Linked DNA regions of Homo sapiens: region 2 is linked to region 1. The links come from fine-mapping of genetic effects on gene expression. Tissue or cell type: left ventricle. Region 1 holds a variant in brackets; the other region holds the start of a gene. All regions are shown on one strand. Distances are from middle to middle.

Region 1 (2,906 bases):
GATAAAGCCAGGTTGACTCATCACGATGATGCATAAAGGTAGATAGAGCCTCTTTTTCTTTTTTAACTGATATGGTTTGGCTATGTCCCCACCCAAATCTCATCTTGAATTGTTGCTCCCATAATCTCCATGTGTCGTGGGAGGGACCTGGTGGGAGGTAATTGATACATGGGGGCAGGTTTTTCCCATGCTGCTCTCGTGATAGTGAATAAGTCTCATGAGATCTGATCGTTTTATAAAGGGGAGTTCTCCTGCACACACACTCTTGCCTGCTGCCATGTAAGATGTGCCTTTGCTCCTCTGCCTTCTGCTGTGATTGTGAGACCTCCCCAGCCATGTGGAACTGTGAGTCCATTAAACCTCTTTTTCTTTATAAATTACCCAGTCTCGGGTATGTCTTTATTAGCAGTACTAATACATTAACCCACTAACCCACTATTTGTATCTGCTTGCTCCCAGGAGAGTTGAGTTGTAGACTACAAGATAAAACATAACTTAAAAAATAAGGCACTAGGGTAGTTTAGTAAAACAATGGCCAGCTTTGAAACCACTTATCAAACTCTGGAACCTTGGAAAAATTAACTAACCTACCAGAATGTTACGTTTCCTCATCTGTAAAATGCAGTAACAACTTTACAGAGTTGTTGGGAGAATTAGAAATCCATTAATGTTTTCATTCAGCACTTTTACTGAGTGCCACGTTAGTGGCAATACTGTGTTAGGAGCAGAACAGGTAAGGATGGGTAAGACATGGTGCCTGCCATTGAGAGGCTTATAACTGGGGCGGAGGAAGACAGACACGTAGATAGACAAGTGGGTGAGGTGTCAAAGAACTTTGCTGGAAATGCATACAGGAAAGAAAGAAGGTATATCAGGAAATGTATGCAGAAAGAAGGAAGGCATGTCAGGAATGGCATGGTGCCAGGTATATAGGAGACGCACAGTAGAGACTAGCTGTTTTTAAAATTATAAAACATAAAAGTGATCAAAGCAGTGAAGCAGAAATAAATCCCGTGGGACACCTGAGATGAGACATTTTGGCACAGAATTTGGCTTTAAGTTTCTTAGAAGCCACGACAGAAAAGGAAACAGGTCGGGTGACATCATTTTCTTATTCTAGTAAGAGAAAGTACACAGATTCAACTTTAGAGAGGACTTTTTTTTTTTTTCTGGAGCTAAATCAAGGAAGGATTATCACGTGGCCTCCCTTGAATATAATTTTGAAGCTGTGAACAGTACCATCAGTAACATTTTATGGACAGCTCTGATGGTTTTTATACCACGGCACTCTTCTTACCTTTGGTGGAAGCTATCTGGAGTTATGACTGATGTGTAAAGTGGTTTACTGTTAGAATCCTGGTGTGCTAGGATTCTGGGAGAGTCACTTTCAGGAAGTTACCTGGCGATGAGTCATCAGAAGAACCTGGAGAAGTGAGAAGACTGGAAAAGTTCTCATTGTTCTGAGCTCAGTTATTTTCTCTGTGCTACAGGGCAGAGGATCCCTTGGCATGAAATAAGAGCTAAGTGGTCCAACAGGCGTTGAAGTGTTAAAACAAGAATAGA[G/A]TAAGTCCTGTGCTAATCCTGACACAAGATAGCAGGCTCTGGGGATGATAATGCCTGCTGCTGATGGGCGGACCAGGGATTAGCAACCATCCAGGGAATATGCTTCAGATAAACTAAACAGGAGGTAGGATGATGCCATGGAAAAGGCATGGACTTTGAAGTCAGGTATATCAAGTTCAAATCCTAGGTCTGCTAGTTGCTAGTTTCACAAAGTACTTAATTTTCTGATCCTCAATGGGATATTAAGAGTTATCTTGGGCCGGGCACAGTGGCTCATGCCTGTAATCCCAGCACTTTGGGAGGCCGAGTTGGGTGGATCACAAAGTCAAGAGATCGAGACCATCCTGGCCAACATGGTGAAACCCCGTCTCTACTAAAAATACAAAAATTAGCTGGGTGTGGTGGTGCACGCCTGTAGTCCTAGCTACTTGGGAGGCTGAGGCAAGAGAATCACTTGAACCTGGGAGGCGGAGGTTGCAGTGAACCAAGATTGAGCCACTGCGCTGCACTCCGGCCTGGCGACAGAGTGAGACTCCATCCCGCCACCACCCACCAAAAAAAAAAATTTATCTTGGGCCAGGCGTGGTGGCTCACGCCTGTAATCCCAGCACTTTGGGAGGCTGAGGCAGGTGGATCACCTGAGGTCAGGAGTTCAAGACCAGCCTGACCAACATGGTGAAACCCCATCTCTACTAAAAATACAAAAATTAGCTGGGCACCTGTAATCCCAGCTACTTGGAAGGCTGAGGCAGGAGAATCGCTTAAACCCAGGAGACAGAGGTTGCAGTGAGCTGAGTTCATGCCATTGCACTCCAGCCTGGGCAACAAGAGTGAAACTTCATTTCAAAAAACAAAAGAGTTATCTCGTATTTCTTGGTTGTTTTGCCAATTAAAGTTAAGGTATATAAACAATAATAATAGTAATAATAATGAGTGCTAACAATGATTGAGACCTTAGTGCAGGCCCTCTGCTAAGTGTTTTAACTGCATTATCTCATTTATTCTTTTTTTTTTTTTTTTTTGAGAGGAGTCTTGCTGTGTTGCCCAGGCTAGAGTAGAGTGGTACGATCTCGGCTCACCACAACCTCTGTCTCCTGGGTTGAAGCGATTCTCCTGCCTCAGCCTTCGAAATAGCAGGGATTTACAGGCACGCCACCACACCCAGCTAATTTTTGTATTTTTTAGTAGAGACGGGGTTTCACCATGTTGGCCAGGCTGGTCTCGAACTCCTGACCTCAGGTGATCTGCCTGCCTCGGCCTCCCAAAGTGCTGTGATTACAGGCGTGAGCCACTATGCCCAGCCACATTTATTCTTAATAGCAACTCTCTGTGGTACATACTAC
Region 2 (2,906 bases), 70 kb after region 1:
TCCCAAAATGCTGGGATTATAGGTATGAGTCACGGCGCCTGGCCAGCTTCATCATCTTTAAAAGCAAGTAAGTCAAAGTTAAGGGCAGCAATGTGTTAAGTTACTCCAACGTAAAAGACTGAGTCGAACAGGTAGCAGGTAACTGCACGTCCTCTCTCGCCAGTGTGGAGATGAACCAAGGCCTGGTAGTTCTTCCCTGTCTTCTGTGGTGTCTCCTCCCACACTGCCAAGCCCCTGCCTGCTGTGGCCGCGTACCTTTGGAGGAGAGCCAAGTAGAGGAACTGTTAAAAAAAAAAAAAAAATTATGATACCCAGGCAACACTCACTCCATTTTCATTTCCTGCAATACTTCTGATTTTTAAACTTTGCCTCCTCCTGTCTTGACTTCAACAAATTGGTAACAGTAAGGGTTGCATATGTACACATATGATGGCGGTAAGACTTGGAAAGCATTTGTTTATAATAATCAAGAGGAAAGGAGAAGAAAAGTGAATAGGAGACGGGAGAGCAAGAGAAAGAGGATAGGAAAAGGAGGATCCGAGTCGGGACTAGTTTGGGGGTGGAGAGATGAAGAGTGTGCTCTAGGAAACAGGTTGCTATGGGTTTTTAAAGGTTTGTTTTGCAAACGTTATCCTTAGCCCAAGCTGTCCCCCGTGGGCATCAGTCTTCAGCATTTTCTCAGCCTCCTTGCTGGAGCACTGGGCCTGGGCTCCAGCAGAAAGGGCGAGTGGATAAGGTCGGCAGCTGCGAGCCTGTCTCTGGGGTGCAGTTCTTCTTAAGGCAGCCGACCACCCAAGCGCAGGGCCAGGAGCCAGCTCTACCCGGCTTCTCCAGGTCCTGTGTGTTTGGGGTTCCCTGGCGAGGAAACCCTGGAGTAGAAGCCCTGTGTTCTGGGTATTAAAAACATTAAAAAAAATACGTTAAGACAAATTTGATCGTAGCTCATACTGCAGTTACAGGTTTTAAAAGCTGGTTTCTAAGTTAAGCAGGTGACCAGGTAGGGTGCTTGCTCCCACCCCCATCCCCTGTTCCATTATCCAAGGGGTCTTATCCTGACTTCTCAAGTGTGGAAACACACAGTCACGTGTTCCTTGGGACTGTGGAAAACGTGCACTTTGGGGCTCACAGGGGCTGGCTTTTCAGCATTGACACGGTGTTCTTCTTTCCTGTCTTGTTTTGGTGATCATCCCACACGACTAGATTAACCTGTTGTTTTTGCAAAGCCCCAGGATTTTCCTAAGCGTCCAAGCCGCCCGGCCTTGTCTTTGTTATGAAATAGTCAAAGGGCTTCAAAACTGCAGGCAGTTGCCGCGCACGGCGCCCGTCCTTGGAGGCCTTTTCTCTGAGAATGGAGTTTTAGATTCAGGGATTTATGACTTGACTTTCCCGGGGCCGGCGCCCCTGCGGAAGCGGCGGTGGCTCGGGAGTCAGACCCGGTTCCCACGCCGCCGGGAGCATCCTCCCCGCCATCTGCGGTCGGGTCTTCTCGACAGGGCCCGGCGGCCTTTGCAGGACGCGAGTTGGGGGGCTCCGAAGGCGGCCGGCGCGCCCCCCCGCGCCTCCCACAATCCCCGGCGCCCGGCCCCGCGCCCCTGACCCGGGTGTCACCGCGGAGCTGCGGGAGGCCTCGGCGGTCTTCGGACGCGGTCGGGAAAGTGGCGAGCGCGCGCCCGCGTCCGCGCCCCCGCTCGCGAACGCCGGCTTCGGCCATTTCCGGCGCGGCGCCCTTCGGCAAGTTCCGCAGTCGCCTGTCGGAAATGGCTGCCGGCCGGCAGGGGGAGCGGCGGATCAGGCGCGGCCTGGAAGGCGGGCGGCCGGCAGCCAGAACGGCTTCTGGGACGCCGACTTTCGCGCAGGCGGCGGCGGCGGCGGCGGCGGGTCCCTGAGCTGGAAGCCGGTAGGACTGCTGGCCGCGCGTGAGCCCGAGGAGCGGGGGCCGCGCCCGGAAGGGCTCATGGGAGGGTGCCGGGGCTGGCCCCGAGCGCTGGGGACGCGGCGGGAGGGACCGGGTCCGCCGTGCCCCGGGGAGGCTGCTGCTGCCCGGCGGCGGGAGGCATGCAGCCTCCGAGCGGAGTAGGCCTGCCCGGTGGCTCGGGGGCCCGGGGAGAGGCCGCCAGGCCCTCGGCCGGCAGCCGGGAGGGCTAACGGGTCCCTGGGCTGGGGCACCCCCTCCCCGCCCCCACACGCCCTCTCTCGTCCCAGTTTGGGCTGCTCGGGACCCGCCTCCACCTTTTTTTGGACGCTCGGCTGCAGCTGTTGGGCTTCCTCTGCTCCCTGAAGCCCTCCACCCTCTGTGACCCGCGGCGTTTCTCTGGCTGCTGGCCCGGAGCATCTTCTGTCGGCGGAGGCGCAGCTCCGGACTACCCCCACCCCTTCCCGAGCACACCTTCCCACATCTGCCCCCCGCTTCTACACGCAGTCGCCTGCTGCCCTCCCCGCTGGCTCTTTTTGCCGGGCTCGCCTCCTTTCAGGAGCCACAGTCAGAGGAGCCGCTTCCTGTCCGAGGGTCCAGGTGCTGCAGGACCCTGGCTCCCAGGCCCAGCTCCCCTAGAGCCGGCCTCGCGCTGCACGGGCTGGACCGGACAGGGGTGCGCGGGGCGTGTGTGCGCGGCGGAGCTCCGAGCCCAGCGACGGGGACAGCACCTATTCCGAGCCCCTCGGAGGCGAGCCAGGGCTGCCCGGCTGCTGATGGGTGCTGCTTTCTCTTCCCCACATTGAGCGAGAGCTTCGGCTCCTTTTATTAATAAAATCTGTTTGGCTCTCAGAAGACTTAAATTTTGTGGATTTTGCCCCTCCCCCGCCACCCGCACCACCCCACCCCCGCCCTTCCCCGCAACCTGGATTTTTCTTCCCTTTTTAAAAACTCTAAAAGCTTCATCAAGTCCTCTTGGTTCGACTCCTTTGGT

Which allele goes with the higher level. Positions count from the first base shown, and alleles are read on the strand shown. Sizes are in standard deviations (SD) of each study's normalised expression.
With allele G in place of A in region 1, the expression in left ventricle of the gene that starts at base 1,739 in region 2 is lower (small effect, 0.31 SD a copy in GTEx).

The links. PIP is the estimated chance that this variant, and not a neighbour inherited with it, causes the effect.
Region 2: it holds the start of EXTL3, and the variant in region 1 is fine-mapped to the expression of EXTL3 in left ventricle (GTEx, PIP above 0.99). The same link has a PIP of 0.9 or more in atrial appendage.

The regions. Positions count from the first base shown.
Region 1 is chr8:28,629,988-28,632,893 of GRCh38, forward strand. It overlaps a transcript of EXTL3 not described here. Among named protein-coding and RNA genes, the nearest start is that of EXTL3-AS1, 70 kb to the right of the region's middle. The variant G/A (reference allele first, on the strand shown) is at 1,564.
Region 2 is chr8:28,699,763-28,702,668 of GRCh38, forward strand. It overlaps EXTL3 (exostosin like glycosyltransferase 3), which reads left to right and starts at 1,739. Exons shown (of 7, transcript NM_001440.4): 1 at 1,739-1,897. It overlaps EXTL3-AS1 (EXTL3 antisense RNA 1), which reads right to left and starts at 1,702. Exons shown (of 3, transcript NR_126027.1): 1 at 1,598-1,702; 2 at 1-281. RefSeq lists silencers at 1,478-1,657, 1,728-1,797, 1,898-2,307.